Regions from separate parts of the Homo sapiens genome. Here region 2 is linked to region 1. Evidence: fine-mapped expression QTL. Tissue or cell type: skeletal muscle. Region 1 holds a variant in brackets; the other region holds the start of a gene. All regions are shown on one strand. Distances are from middle to middle.

Region 1 (8,186 bases):
GATGCTGAGCTGGGAGGATTGCTTGAACCTAGGAGGTTGAGGCTGCAGTGAGCCACGATTGTGACACTACACTCCAGCCTGGGCAACAGAGTGAGACTTTGTCTTAAATTTTTTTTTTTTTTTAATAAGGAGTGAGTATCCTGCTGGTCAACCTGAAATTCTACTTCCTGCTTTTGTAACCAGGTGTGAGAGGCTGAGGGAGGAGGTTCCCTTAACCCTTAACCCTGGAAGTCTCCACACCCATGAACAATTCCCAGCCCTCTCAACTGGAACAGTGTGGCTCCCACCCTTGTGCTGTGTGTATGGCACAGACACAGTAGACATATTGACATGGTAGTCTGAGTGTTTCACCATCTATCTTGGAGCCTGCAGGGGCTTCCTGATGCTCCTAGGATAAAGTCTAACATTCTGCCATGACCATCAAGGCCCCATGTGACATGCCCGGCTCTCTTTGGGGCCCCATTTTGTCAGTTCTCCCTGAGCTTGTAGCTCTTCCCCTCATAGCCCTTCCTTCTTGCCCTGAGACAGGCCCGCCTCACCAAGCCTGCTCCTGGGTCTCCTTCTCTCTGCCCAGTCTCTTGCCTAGTTAAAGCCAGCACATGCTTCACACCTAGGAAGGACCATGTCCTCTCAGGAAAGCTGTGCCTCAGGCCCCAGTCTCAGCTGATCTGCTCTGGCCTCTCGAAGCCTGAAACCATCTCACATGGCACTCTCCTCGGTTGGTGACATGTGTCACGACTTAGTGGACTTTTGCTTCACATGCTAGACCATGAAATCCATAGGGGAAGGGCTTTGCTCACCACTGTATCCCCATCATTCACACAGTACCTGGCACATAGTACGTGTACTATTGAGAATGAATGAATGACTGAATGAAGAATGGCTGTAACTCTTAAGAGGAAAGAAACATAAAATCATTTCTTTTTAGCTGTTGGTACATACTTATGGTGCAGGTATATGTGGGGAGAGGGTGTGCTAGGGCTCTTTGCATCTTAGCTTGAATACTGAATTTCCTGGGGCTAGTTCTATTTCTTGCATCTCTGTTCTTGTTAGATTGGTCCCTCCTTGCTTGAGTTGTGGACAACTGGTCGAGTTGCAAAACACTGTGCTTTACCATCATGGTGGCTTTTCATTCTTGACCCTGATTCTAACGTGTTCCAGTTGCCATGTAGTTTCTACTGGTTGTTGGAAGCCTGAATTTAAATGTGATTTGTGGGTGTTTGAAAAACTCACAGTCCCATGTAATCTCACAGCATTAAACTTCAAAGCTCTTTGAAATACTAAACCTCAAAGTCGGCATGTTTAGGTCCTAGCTAGTGAAGAAAAGGAAGCAGAAAGAGTTTAAACCAAATGACAAAGATTATTTTCTTGACCAAACTTTAGTAAGGTTCTTAACATATCTCCTATACCCCTCTGTGTAATTCTTTGAAAAATCCAGTTTTTGCAAGAAAACTATTAAGTCAATATAGCAGGAACTCCCTACCCCCAACATCTGATCAGGTTCTTCATCCTCCACCACCACCCAGGTAATATCTAATCACCCTGGCCTATCTTTAGCAAGAATCCTGTTGGATCACTGTAGCCAGAACCCATCCCTTTCCTTACCGATGATGTTTCCTCTTAGGGATTTTCTATCCCTCCTTCTCCACCCTTCTGCATGGCTATAAATTCCCACTTGCCCACGTTATATTAAGAGTCGAACACAATCTCTTCCACTGCCAGACTCCATTGCCATGGTCCCTACACCTATGGAGATGGTCCTGACTAAAATCTGCCCTACTGTGCTTTAATAAGTGTCATTGAATAATTTTTTCTTTAACAGGACCAACCAATCAACCAACCAACCACCAACCCACCAACCAACCAACCAATTAAAAGTCAGAACTCATTTTATCATTTGGGATCATAGCTGACCCTGGAGTGAATGTTTTTTTTTTTTTTTAACTATCTTTATATTAGTCCATTTTCATGCTGCTGATAAAGACATACCCAAGACTGGGTAAATTATAAAGAAAAGAGTTCAATGGACTTACATTTCCACATGGCTTTGGAGGCCTCACAAGCATGCAAGTACTAAAGAACTGTGTCTGCAATTAAAATGAAAAAGACCAGGCACAGTGGCTCATGCCTGTAATCCCAGTGCTTTGGGAAACTGAGGCGGGAGGATTCACAAGCATGGTGGAAGGTGAAAGGCATGTCTTACGTGGCAGCAGACAAGAGAAAATGAGAGCCAATTGAAAGGGGAAACCCCTAATAAAATCATCAGATCTCATGAGGCATATTCACTACCAAGAGAATGGTATGGGGGAACTGCACCATGATTCAATTATCTCCCACCAGTCCCCTCCCCCCAACACGTGGGAATTATGGGAGCTACAATTCAAGGTGAGATTTATGTGAGGACACAGCCAAACCATATCATTCCTCCCCTGCCCCCTCCCATATCTCATGTCCTCACATTTCAAAACCAATCATGCCTTCCCAACAGTTCCCCAAAGTCTTAACTCATTTCAGCATTAACTCAAAAGTCCATAGTCCAAAGCCTCATCTGAGACAAGGCAAGTACCTTTCACCCATGAGCCTTAAAATCAAAAGCAAGTTAGTTACTTCCTAGCTACAGTAGGGGTACAGGCATTGGGTAAATATAGCCATTCCAAATTGGAGAAATTGGCTAAAACAAAGGGGCTATAGGCTGCATGCAAGTCTGAAATCCAGTGGGGCAGTCAAATCTTAAAGCTCCAAAATGGTCTCCTTTGACTACATGTTCACATCCAGGTCACTCTGATGCAAGAGGTGGGTTCCCGTGGTCTTGGGCAGCTCTGCCCCTTTGGCTTTGCAGGGTACAGCCTCCCTCCAGGCTGCTTTCACAGGCTGACATTGAGTTCCTGTGGTTTTTCCAGGTGCACTGTGCAAGCTGTCGGTGGACCTACCATTCTAGGGTCTGGAGGATGGTGGCCCTCTTCTCATGGTTCCACTAGGCAGTGTCCCAGTGGGGACTCTTTGTGGGGGCTTCAACCCCACATTTCTCTTCTGCACTGGCCTAGAGGTGGTTCTCCATGAGGAGCCCTCCCCTGCAGCAAACTTCTGCCTGGACATCCAGGCATTTCCATACATCCTCTGAAATCTAGGTGGAGGTTCCCAAACCTCAGTTATTGACTTCCATGCACCTGCAGGCTCAATGCCACATGGAAGCTGCCAAGGCTTGGGGCTTGCACCCTCTGAAGCCATGGCCTGAGCTCTACGTTGGCCTCTTTCAGCCATGGCCGGAGTGGCTGAGATACAGGACACCAAGTCCCTAGGGTGCACACAGCAGGGAAGGCCCTGGGCCCAGCCCATGGAACCATCTTTTCCTCCTAGGCCTCTGGGCCTATGATGGGAG[G/C]GGCTGCCATGAAGGTCTCTGACATGGCCTGGAGATATTTTCCCCATTGTCTTGGTGATTAAGATTTGGCTCCTTGTTATTTACGCAAATTTCTGTAGCTGGTTTGAAATTCTCCCTAGAAAATGGGTTTTTCTTTTCTAGTGAATTGTCAGGCTGCAAATTTTCTGAACTTTTATGCTGTGTTTTCCTTTTAAAATGGAATGCTCTTAACAGCACCCAAGTCACCTCTTGAATGCTTTCCTGCTTAGAAATTTATTTCACTAGATACCCTAAATCATCTCCCTCAAGTTCAAAGTTCCACAAATCTCTAGGGCGTGGAAAAAATGACACCATTCTCTTTCCTAAAACATAGCAAGGGTCACCTTTACTCCAGTTCCCAACAAGTTCCTCATCTCCATCTGAGACCACCTCAGCATGGATTTCATTGTCCATATTATTATAAGCACTTTGGTCAAAGCCATTCAACAAGTCTCTGGGAAGTCCCAAACTTTCCCACATTTTCCTGTCTTCTTCTGAGCCCTCCAAACTGTTCCAACCTCTGCCTGTTACCAGGTTCCAAAGCAACTTCCACATTTTTGGGTATCTTTATGGCAGCACCCCACTCTACCAGTATCAGTTTACTTTATTAGTCTATTTTCACACTGCTGATAAAGACATACCCAAGACTGGGTAAATTATAAAGAAAAAGAGGTTTAATGGACTTACAGTTCCATGTGGCTGAGGAGGCCTCATATTCATGGCAGAAGGTGAAAAGGCATGTCTTACCTGGTGACAGACAAGAGATAATGAGAGCCAAGTGAAAGAGGAAACCCCTTATAAAATCATCACATCTTATTCACTACCATGAGAACAGTATGGGGAAAACCACCTCAATGATTCAATGATCTCCCACGGGGTCCCTCCCACAACATGAGGGAATTATAGGAGCTACAATTCAAGATGAAATTTGGGTGGGGACACAGCCTAACCATATCAACATTACTTCCGTATACAACAAAATTATTTTCAGTGTTGATCATGAATAGAGACAAGTAATAATAATAGTAAAGAAATGTAGTCAGTGAAACTTTTCTTTTATTCAACTTTTGTGTATAGACTCAAGACCAGTAAAAAAATCAGAATGCCAATTTAAATAAAACTAAAATGTCTACAAAAAGTATAAGTCAGACAATTACTAAATCATACCACTGGTGTAATGTTTTATTTCTTGATTCATTCTTAAATTTTAAAACAAATAATTAACACTTAGAAAAGAGTAAATTTTGTTTTTAAAGTTATTATTCAAAGTCAGTAAACTTCCTGTATGAGCACAACTTTGTACTTACTAAACAAAGTGTGAATGTTGCTGTTCACACTCTTAAATTTTACTGTTTTAAATTCTGGATACAACTGAAAACCCCAATGAGAGAATTGAACAAACTGAGGTGTTCTGCTTCTTTTCCTTTACAACCATTGTGCCACCATCATCTATGCCAAATCTACTGTTTAAACAGCAATATCCAAATACTGCAGGGTTGGAGACACAGGTTATACCTGAAGTGAGCTTGCAAGATTCTGAACTGTTATGAACTTAACCTTGGAAGGAAGCAGGCAGAACTACATCTGCCTGCTGGAATTAAAGAGGTAGACTCTATGCTTGGGGTTTCTGAATTAATTTCCATACAAAGGTGAATAAGACATGAAACAAAACAACAAAAATTTTACAATGCAGTGGGGATACAGATAACTTTTATTTATTTACATAATAAAAAGGTGCTTATTTGAAGCTCATATACATATAGTTAAAACTCAGTGGTAACCTAGCTATTATTTAGAACTTAGGCCAATAAGAGTTTTTCTTTTCACTTTTCTTTTCTTTTTTTCCTTTTTTTTTTCTCTTTTTCAGGGAGAAGCATTTTAACACTGACATTGTTTGGAATTGCCAGTGCATGGTAATAATAAAAAGCAGTCAGTTAAGACCAGCCTGGGCAACATAGCAAGACCCTATTTTAAAAAAAATACCCTACGAAATCCAACAAAAAGCATTCAGAATTTTAGTTGGCTTCATTCTTCCTCTTATTGTCTGCTCCCAGGGTGAACTGCTCCTACTACCCTCAGCTATGGAATGCCACTATTTGGGACTAAAAGAAAAGGGTCAAAGTTCAAAATTTGTGATTTGCTGCAGTCATTTATCCATGCACTTTTTTACTCCCTCTACAAGTTCTCAAGGGCACTTGCTGTGTGCCAGGCACTGCATTAGGTACTAGGAGTAAATATGGCATGAGACTGAACCCAAAGAATTAACAATTGAGTGAGAGGTATAAATAAGAAATTGAAGAGTAAATACATAACAACAGGGCTGCAACTGGGACAAATATGGGAAGCAAGGGAAAAGAACACCTCACTTGGTTTAGGGCTTCCCAAAAGGGTGGCATTGAAGCCAAGACCCAATTACCTCCATGCCTGGGAGCCATGCCCATGCTGACGTTGTTGACAGCCATCCTGTCTCCTCCTTTCTGCTTTCACCAGGACGTAACTTGGGTTCCCAAAAGGCCACTGTCATGCTTTCTGTTTCCTATATGACCTAGCACTGGGACTATTCACCAAGTTTTGGTCTTCTGACATCTCCTCTGTGCACTTCCATTTTATTCCCACCCACCAGTGAGGGCACTCAGGCCATGTTTCCTCAGGGCTGGCTGCACCAGGGTTTCCCTCAAAGTGTTCCTTCTGATAGTGACCAGACAGAACTCCAGGATTGAGCCCAGGCTGGAGTTGCCTGAATGGCCAGGACAGATGACAGAAATTTTGTTTTTAATATAGATATAACCTAATATTTGGACTTATACTCAAGGTATTATGATGTTATAGACTGGGAGACTAGGATGCACTTTCCAGAATAATGGGGATTAAAACAATCCTTTTGTACTCAAGTCATACGTTTTACTTAGTTTATTAAGCTACCTTATATCTTACTTTGGAAAGAATAGTTGGGAAAATGGGCATTAGACGTGATCCTTTTTAAAAAATGAAGTGGTGACATACTGTTAATCATCACAGAGATTGTTTGTACTACATTGTATACATTCACAATATGCTTTCAGAGATTCTTCTGGCTGGGACTGAAGGATTGAAGATAGTATTTGCACTCTTGCCATCCACCTTTTAATTTTATTTACATCTTGCTCAGAGTTCCATGCAGAAGTTTATGGAGGTTCCTTCCATCTTTCTTCTATAGATTTCATCAAACCTCTCATTCTGGGCAACAGTGAAGTGGTTTTTCCAATCCCCCACAGTTCCTAGAAAAAGGAAGGCCAGACAGGAGTGTCACTCTGATTGAAAGATGTGGTGTCCCTGAGTAAAGTGGTGTAGTGCCCATACTGAATCTGGCCTGTCCACATACCTGACTCACCCAACTCCCCCTTCAGTGGACACCTGTCCATGAGCAGCTCTCCTATAAGAAGCAGGCCTAGGGGACTCTGTGCAGGGGGATGGACTTCTAAGTCAGCTGGACAACTGACCCAAGGCAGCTAGTGGCCTGCATGACCTGGCCCCACCTGTAGTGTATTTACCTGATGGATTACTACATAGACATAAAAGAATGATGAACTACAGACACACAACCACATGGAGGAATCTCAAAACATTATGTTGAGCAAAAGACACGAGACACAGGAAAGTAAATACTGTGAAATTCCATTTACGTGAAGTCCAGCAACAGGCAAAATCAATCTAGAGTAATAGAAATTGGAAAAACGGTTGTCCCTGGAGGTAGACATTGACTGAAAAGGGCACAAGAGGGAACTTTCTGGGGTAATGAAAATGTTTCATATCTTGATTGGGGTGCGGGTGGTGTGGGTATATACATTTATTAAAATGGGTTGAACTGTATACTTAAGATCTGTGCATTTTTGGTATTTTGATTATATCTCAATAAAAAACTATTTTGGAAAAATATGAATGAGATAATATTTTTCACCAAACAACAACTTAAACTAATTTTAAACAGGGGAAATTCTCTTTTCCCCACCAATACCTCTTCCAGAAAATTATGCAACAGAAATAAAAGCATCTGGAAATAATTTATGCACAAAGATATTTACTGTAACATTATGCATAAAAACAAACATTGAAAACAATAATAACTATAGTGTCTATCATTAAGGGAATAGTTGGATGAATTATGATGCATCCTTCGCTTGGTATAACATGGGACCAAAGAAATCAATGAGGTGTATGAGTCTATATGCCTTGCCCTAGAGGGGTTTCTCATATCCTGGTAAGTAAAGGTATAAAATATGACCCCATTCTGCATTTTAGGGAGCAAGCTTTCATTATGGTTACATATCTTTGTGTCTGTGTGAGTCTGAAGAAGGAGGGTGTATAGAAAGATGGTTATGTATGAGCCTGAAGAAGGGCACCTTGACAAATCATTACCACTGGTTATCCAAAGAGAAAAGGGGTAGAATATTTTGGTTTGTTTCATTGGTATGGAATACTGTTGTAGATTGGAAAATGCAACAACATAAATTCAAGCACATGCAAAATCAAAGAGGAAGAAGAAAAGATGTTTCAAAGCAGTGTGTATACCATGATTTCACTGTTGTGAATAAAAAATCTGTATGTTATAAATGAGAGAGAAAGGGACTTCCATACTGTTGGTAGTTACTTCTTGGGGGTGGAGTTTTTGTGGAGAGACTTTTAAAAAATATAATTTTATACTGATTTTATTTATTTATTTATTTATTGAGACAGTCTCACTTTGTCACCAGGCTGGAGTACAGTGGCATGATCTTGGCTCACTGCAACCTCTGCCTCCTGGGTTCAAGTG
Region 2 (8,186 bases), 68 kb before region 1:
AAGAGGAAATGGAAGACTAAGGTTGTTTTAAGGAGTACAACTCTGAATTCCTTTTGCTTTTTTACCTTACAGTTTTTCTCTAGCAAGGATGGTGGCAGCAAGTGAAAGGGAAGATGTGTTTTCAGGATCCGTGGTGAGGGCATTGCATGAGCTTGTTCCAAACCTGCAAAACTGGTTTTCGATCAATTTCTACGATTTTTTTTTTATCTATTTGCTTCCAAGTCTTGCTGCTTCCATTATTACTACTACAATTCAAAGCATCTATAAGAACATTGTAACTGTAGATCTGGTGTGAGAGAATACGTCTAGCCTATGAATAGATGTTTTGACTAGAACAATTCCTAACCATAACAGTCATCCAAATAAATAAGAACCTAAAAAATTCAAACCCTTTCACCAGGATTATCTTACTTGAGCTTATTCTTTTGAAGTAAAATTAATTTCTAACTAGAGAAACAAAATTTAACTCACTTTTGTACAAACAGTAATTCCATTAGAAAATGTCTGGAGTATAACAATGGCCAGACACAGTTAAAAAAAGACAAAACCATGAAACTTACCAATAATTGTTTGAAAGCCTATAATTTCGAAAGGTGCAAAGACAGTAAAAATCCTAAGTGCATTTTAGGACTGTAGTGAAGTGTGGCTATTTATACTCACCAGATCCTAAGGATGGGATTTTCATTTCGAGGAAAGGAAATCGTTGATGAGTCGGTGCCCGTTTACTTTTCTCCACATCACCTTCATTTTGTATTAATTCCACTATCTCCTGAGTCCATGTTGTTCCTTACGTGCACGTAAAATGAAGATGAATAGACATCTAGTATAGTACATTCCTTAAAATATGATCAAATACTTGTTAGAACATCTATGTCTTTTGTTTTGTTTTGTTTTGTTTTGTTTTTTGAGACAGGGTCTTGCTCTGTATCAAGGCTGGAGTTCAATGGTGCAATCTTGGCTCACTGCCTCCTGGGTTCAAGCGATCCTCTCGCCTCAGCCTCCTGAGTAGCAGGGGTTACATGCATACACAATCACCCCTGGCTAATTTTTATACTTTTTGTAGAGACGGCATTTTACCATGTTGCCCAGGCTGATCTGGAACTCCTGAGCTCAAGTGATCTGCTTGCAAGTGATCTGCTCGCCTCGGCCTCCTAAAATGCTGGGATTATAGGTGTGAGCCACCATGCCTGGACCATCTATGTGAATTTAAAAGCTAGGTTTTAAATGGGATTCAGAAGATAGCATTCCTTATTTATATCTTATTATCATAATATGATTTTAAAAAAATACTCCAATTTTGAATGGACATTAGACTGATAAATATACATTTATTTTTTTCTGTCACAACTATTAATTTGGATTGTTATTATTGTTCTATTTATTTAGCTGTATTGTCCTTAGAAAGGACATTCTCCCCAAATTGTGATCTGCTATAGAGAAATGACTACATGATTTTCAAACTCTCTTTTTCCCAGTTGCATAGCGTAGGAGACACTTAGTATTTGTTGGCTGAATGAGTGAACCATTAGGGCTTGAACTTGATATTGACCATTAGCACTTAGTATTCAATTTTTCGCCTTTCTCTGTTTCCCCCATATCTCATGGGCTGAAAGGCTGTAAAAGGCCTTCCCTAAACTCCTTTGCCACTAAGATTCTGAAGGCTATTTAGATCCCTCCAGTGAGATGCATTAGCCTGAGTTTTGGAAGGCAGTGGGGAGATAGAAGTCATCCTTCCTGAGGTGGTGGCTGCTGATAGTAGCCCCAGCAGATAGAAATTTTGCAGAGACCATTCCACGTTCCATGGCCCAGTGCCCTAGACCCAACCACTGCCACTGTGGCCATAGGTAGAATGGTATCCCCCAGCTTCAGTCTGTCTGTGTCTTGCACTGATCCTGACTGATACAGTGATATTGTGCTATCAACATAATCTTCACCCTTTGATGAAGATCTGTTGCACCAGATGTTCTGGCAAAATCCAGGTTAGGAGGATGTTGAGTTATTTTAGGATGGCTTTTTTTATTTTTTATTTTTCCAGAGACAGGGTCTTGCTCTGTTGCCCAGGCTGGAGTACAGTGGTGGGATCCTAGCTCAGTGCAGCCTCCAACTCCTGGGCTCAATGGTCCTCTTGCTTCAACCTCCCAAATAGCTAGGACTGTGAGTGCACACCACCATGCCTGGCTAATTTTTATTTTTTTTTTGTACATAGGAGTCTCCCTATGTTGCCCAGGCTGGTCTCAATCTTCTAGCCTCAAAAGATCCCCCTGTCTTGGCCTCCCAAAGTGATGGGATTACAGGTGTGAGCCACCATGCCTAGCCAGGATGGCTTTCTGAATCCTGATCTAGGTTGATCTTTCCTGTATTATCTGGCCGAAACTCTATAGATTCCTTTTCCCATATTCTCAATTTAGTGCTTTTAAAGGCCTAGAATAAGGGCATAGGTTAGAAAAAAATTAAATTACATTTTATATTTTATAGTAGTTGGTCTCCTGTATTTTCTGGCAGCAACTTTTATTACAGGACAAAGGGCCAAGATATCTTTAGCTATCCATGCAAAGAATAGTCCAGCCATTTGTACTAGTTTTATGGGAATTTATAGCCATAACACTGAATGTCTATAATGAATGAATTGAATGAATTTATAGACATGAGCCAACATGAGGGCAGATTCAAATGTTGCTAGAGGCTCCGGGGTGAGTGGAATGACTTCTCAATTTATTCTCTAGAGGCCAGTGATTCTATGATGTATTTTTTTCTTGTGTCATTCAGAGTATTATTCTTTTAAAAATTTAGGGTGAACTATTTTTGCCATCTATGCTTGTTTCTTCTTCCTTCTAATAAAATAGCCTTCATTAATGTATATGGTTTTAGTTATGATTAAATATTACTTTAGATGGCAAGTATTTAATTTTCTTAGTGTGCTTTTTGAATTGCTTAAACCTCATTAATGCCATGAAAAACCTAAATGAACCATATCTTTGTACTTGCGTTTGGCAGATAGAGAAAAGATTATTTATGTATTGAATTGATAATCAAGTGGAATTGTCAATGAAATTAAGATGATGAGATGTGATCCTCACCAGTGGCTACTTTTAGAAATTTACATTCAGAAAAATTTGATCCTGAATGGGCTCCTGATGAGTAAGATTGGGAAATCAGGACCAAAATGAAACAGATGGACAAAGAAGAGACCAAGGCCTCCATGTGCCTGCAGAATCTTCTGTCAGGATCTTGAGAGATAAGAACAAAAGAGGATTTTGAACAGTCTCAGAAAATACTGAGGTTTAGATTTTTTGATGTGTGTGTGTTTGTGTGTGTATAACAAGAGTTTTTGACAGCTTGATTTTGCAAAGAGCAAATGTATATACAATTTGTGTGTGGACCCAGTAATGTATTTCTAGTAGATATGTAGATATGCAAAAATATTTATAGAGAACTATTTCCACCTCATCATCACCCAATTTTTATGACGTGGTGGCTCGGCTTAAGCTAGTCCTACTTTTACAGACAACTTTGTTAAACTGATTGTTGAGATAAGGCAGTTGGTTCAAAACTTACCACAAAGGAAGGTGGAAATCAGAAGGATGGTTCTCAGACCCTGAGATGGGAGGGCTGCTGAGGTGATATCAGCATTGCAGAACCAAAGCTCCCCTATTTCTTTCCCAAATCAGACTCAGGATCACCTTTCTAGCTCACACACTCAAAGCAGCTTTTTACAAGATCTACAATAAGGGCCTAGATTGGGAATGAATAAATAAACAAGTCTACCCTTTTGCTCTTAACTGTTTTCACTCTCTCCTGGGAAAGTGAAAAAAAAAAAAAAAGGAAGTACATCATAGTATCATAGGAAGATTGAATTCTAAAAATTTGTATGTCATTTTAGTATGTTTCGGTATAGCTTCAGTTTCCACTAGTAACTTTCCTTAGCCATATCACTCTGTCCAGAGTTTTCCAGATCAACTTCTTTATTTCATGACTAATGCATACTTCCACTTACCTTCCTAACTCTCCTCTTCCCCTTCCCCTGCAAGCCCTTCCACCTACCTGCTTTAGGATAGGTAGAAATAAGCAGGTCATCAGGCTTGGCTTGGAAGTTCCAGATCTTATCCCAGATGTCACAGGTGTCTGTCGGTTGAAGAATTCCCTTCACGTAGTTGACACTTAAGCGCTTTGTTCCATCAAATGTAAAATCCTCCATGTCGTGTAAGGCCATTAGTGTAAGAAATCAGAGGGCTCTTCCAGACACAAAGTTATCTTCAGTCAGCATATGGCTGCGTTGTGGATAGAGGCAGCACTCTATCCACCACACTACCACACTATCCAGCCCTCTAGCACAGGCCTGTCTGGGCCAGCAAACAGGGAGAAAGTGAGTTGCAGGCCTCCCGACTCAGGTTCCAGGGAACTGGAACTCTTGTTTATGACTTTGTCCACTGGCAGTTTCCTGAGGAACTGCAGCCCCCTCCTCACCAGGCTGTGGCGTCACAGCAGAGGCGGCCACAAACCCTGCTGGCCAGCAAACAGGGAGAAAGTGAGCTGCAGGTCTCCCGACTCAGGTTCCAGGGAACTGGAGCTCTTGTTTATGAATTTGTCCACTGGCAGTTTCCTGAGGAACTGCAGCCCCCTCCTCACCAGGCTGTGACGTCACAGCAGAGGCGGTCACAAACCCTGCTGGCTGGGTCCCGTTCCAGCCCTTCCGTTCTCTGTGAGTTAACAGGACATAGTATCACATTGTTTATAGCTCTCATGTCTGTGTCCATTAAACCCTTCATAGATAATTTCAGTAATTATTCCTTCTGGGAATTTTAAACAATTAAAAAGTTGCAGGACTTGCCTGTGAAATTACAGATTCTACACAGAATGACTTCCCTGAGAGACTGCAGGGACTTTCCCGTGGGCTATTAACAGTGGGGGCCTGGATGGATCTGAATCTCCCAGTACAAACATCTGCCAGGGTCAGCTTTGTTATTTTTTAAGAGTAAAATAAATAATGCTAAACTGGAGAATTGTAGGGGTTTCATCACAGCTATGAAAACATGTATGCCTCATTTAAAGCAAAAGGGATGCAGAAAACTCCAGAGTTAACAGAAGACAGTGGCTGCCTTAGGAATCCATTCTGCCCCTGATAATCAGAAATTTCACAACTTGCTTCAGTCCCTGCCCCCGGCCTGGCCTGCACCCCAGGGCCATGCCACACTTGCTCCCCATGGCAGCACTCCTTCTGGAGATCTTGTCGGCTCTTGTGTGTCTGGCTGTCTGATTCTCTTTCTTCGTGTCCCAGCTTTGATGCCCCCTTTCTGGAGAAGCCTTCTTTGACTTTCTATGTCATCTCAAGTAGGTCCCTCCTATTTCCTTGCTCATGGCACTTTGTGTTCCTTTAGAGCAACCATTGACAGTTAGTTTTTGCGTGTTTACTTGTTGGCATTTTCTGTCTCCTTCACTACACTCTAAGGCACATGAAATGGGGCCTGTTGTTTTCTCACTGTTTGATAGCTGTATGCCTAGTGTCTGGCATTCTTCTATTTCTCGAAAGAATGAATGAGTAAAACTAAGCAAAAATTGAGGAAGCGAGTTCCTTGGGCCATCATTATGTGGGGACTAGGTGAGTATGGTGGCTGTGGCTTGACATCCTTCAGAGAGAAGTCAGGCTGCCTGTATTTGAACCCTGTGCCAAGTCCCAGTAGCTGTGGGCAATGGCAGGTTACAGAATCTTTCTCTGTTTCATATCACGCTTTTCCTCAGGTCTGAATTGGGGATCTTAACATTATCTACCTCATGGTTGTGGGGAGATAAAACAGCTTATTTAATGCTTGGCAACAGGGAAATGTTGAATAAATCATAGCTGTTAATAATAATGGGTGACTTTGTTCACCATTTCTCTGTGGCCCATGTTCTGGATGCAAACTCAGAAAAGATCAATTCTTTGGCTTTCCCTATTCCTCATCCCCTCCCTCCAGACCATGGTGAGGTGGATGGGCCCTTGAGACAGAGACTGCCAGGTGGAATGCCTGGGATGCATATGCATTTAAACAGACTTATAAAAATCACCTATAATTTTTCAGTTAGATTTTATTCTATAATCTTTTTGGCCCTGTGTGCCATCAGAGTAGAGTGGTAGATATTCAGCAATGCCTTAGCAGTTTTCTCCAGTGCGTTGTGTGCTAGAGGGGGAGGGCTGGGAGATGGGGGAGGATATGCTTCTGGACCCAAAGATGACTGACTGGGATTGAAAATAGATCCAGGGAAGATGGGAAGTTCCAAATAATTTGAAAAGTGATCTTGACTACAAACACTGCTCTTATTCTCACTTAATGTTTTTACTCAATAGTACTTTCTCATGAGGTTAGGAGAATTAAATAAATATATTTAGTGATTATAAGAATAAAGTTGGTGCTAAGTCTATATTTGACAAGCATTGCTTTGGAATTCTAAATATATGGGTTTGAATTTAAACTGCCCCCTAATAGCTGTGTAACTTTTCTAATACTTATCTCTTCTGAGCCTTTCGTTTTTTATTAATCTCACAGGGTTAATGTAATGTTGGATGTAAATAAGGTATCCTATAATCTTGGGATATATTGGGTACCCAAGATAAAGCTAATATACTCTCCCCCTCTAATTCTTCCCTGAACCTCCCTTTCAACTCTGTCACTGTTTGCTTCTGAGCATGGAGAGGAGATTCCAACTCTTAACGCGCTTTAGATGTCCTTTTTGCAAACTACTAACTTGTTCAGGCCTCAAATGTGATTCATTTGCAAAATTTGTAACTGGGGTTTCCAAACTCTTTTTTTGTTAGTAAAATCCAGCATGCTGGTTACTACCCTTAAACAGGTCTCTGTTTGTTTGCTTTTTACGAAAGGAATATGTAGGCAGGGCATGGTGGCTCATGCCTGTAATCCCAGCACTTTGGGAGGCCGAGGCAGGTGGATCACGAGGTCAGGAGATTGAGACCATCCTGGCTAACACGGTGAAACCCCGTCTCTACTAAAAATACAAAAAATTAGCCGGATATGGTGGCAGGTGCCTGTAGTCCCAGCTAGTCGGGAGGCTGAGGCAGGAGAATGGCATGAACCCAGGAGGCGGAACTTGCAGTGAGCCAAGATCGCACCACTGCATTCCAGCCTGGGCAACAGAGTGAGACTCCATCTCAAAAAAAAAAATAAATAAATAAAATTAAAAAAAAGGAATATGTCTAAAAGACGTTTTGACTCGGCACACTGTTTTAAAACACACCCGGCCAGGCGCGATGGCTCATGCCTGTAATCCTAGCATTTGGGAGGCCAGGGTGGGCAGATCACCTGAGGTCAGGAGTTTGAGACTAGCCAGGCCAACATGGCGAAACCCTGACTCTACTAAAAATAGAAAAATTAGCCAGGCGTGATGGTGCATGCCTGGAATCCCAACTACTCAGGAGGTTGAGGCAGGAGAATCACTTGAACCCTGGAGGTGGAGTTTGCAGTGAGCTGAGACTGCACCACTGCACTCCAGCCTGGGTGACAGAGCGAGACTCGGTCTCAAAAAAAAAAAAGATACCCATTGGAGAGTGAGCTAAGCCTGTGTTGAAAAAGTTGAATTGTAATGGTCTTTGTTCTTTGAATCAATATTTAGCTTAGAGGTATTGTAAATGACTTATTTGTTGTTCAATACTTGAAACCGAAGCAAGAGGAAGAACTAACAAGTCCACATAATTAAAACTGGAATCAAATCCAGATTGTTCAGATATTGATAAATATGGTTTATTCATAACTTCTTTTCCCCCTTCCTCTATTTAGATGGCCTTAAGGCCATTCTGTTTGCAGTACACTATTCCAGGAGCTGAGTAGGGAGAAAATGAAACTCAAATGAATTATATTACTCTTTGCTATAATACTTTAATCAGCTTCAGAGGTTGGAGGTAACTGTAAGCACTTAGTGAGATGAAGCAAGGATGTAGGCAATCTATAATTTCAGACAATTCCTTAAAACATAACCTAAGAACCCCTTACATTCTCAGAAAAATGAAAAGCTGTGTCAAATGCTGGGTCATGTAGAGCTTCCAGCTGTAGCAAATATAGATACAGGATGCCCAGTTAAATTTGAATTTTAGATAAACAGTGAATTAATTTTTAGTACATGCATTTTCTGTGCAATATTTGGAATATACTTATTCTTCAAAATAAATCACTGGTTGTTTATTTGAAATACAAATGTGA

Direction of the effects. Positions count from the first base shown, and alleles are read on the strand shown. Sizes are in standard deviations (SD) of each study's normalised expression.
With allele G in place of C in region 1, the expression in skeletal muscle of the gene that starts at base 4,594 in region 2 is lower (small effect, 0.37 SD a copy in GTEx).

Evidence for each region. PIP is the estimated chance that this variant, and not a neighbour inherited with it, causes the effect. A credible set is the group of variants that fine-mapping cannot tell apart.
Region 2: it holds the start of SULT1C4, and the variant in region 1 is the best candidate, but not a certain one, in a credible set for the expression of SULT1C4 in skeletal muscle (GTEx, PIP 0.64).

The regions. Positions count from the first base shown.
Region 1 is chr2:108,306,820-108,315,005 of GRCh38, reverse strand. SULT1C2 (sulfotransferase family 1C member 2) reads right to left here. Exons shown (of 8, transcript NM_001056.4): 8 at 5,091-6,654. The coding sequence ends at 6,542. Among named protein-coding and RNA genes, the nearest start is that of SULT1C2, 22 kb to the right of the region's middle. The variant G/C (reference allele first, on the strand shown) is at 3,380.
Region 2 is chr2:108,374,362-108,382,547 of GRCh38, reverse strand. It overlaps SULT1C4 (sulfotransferase family 1C member 4), which reads right to left and starts at 4,594. Exons shown (of 7, transcript NM_006588.4): 1 at 4,042-4,594; 2 at 661-786; 3 at 66-163. The coding sequence starts at 4,210.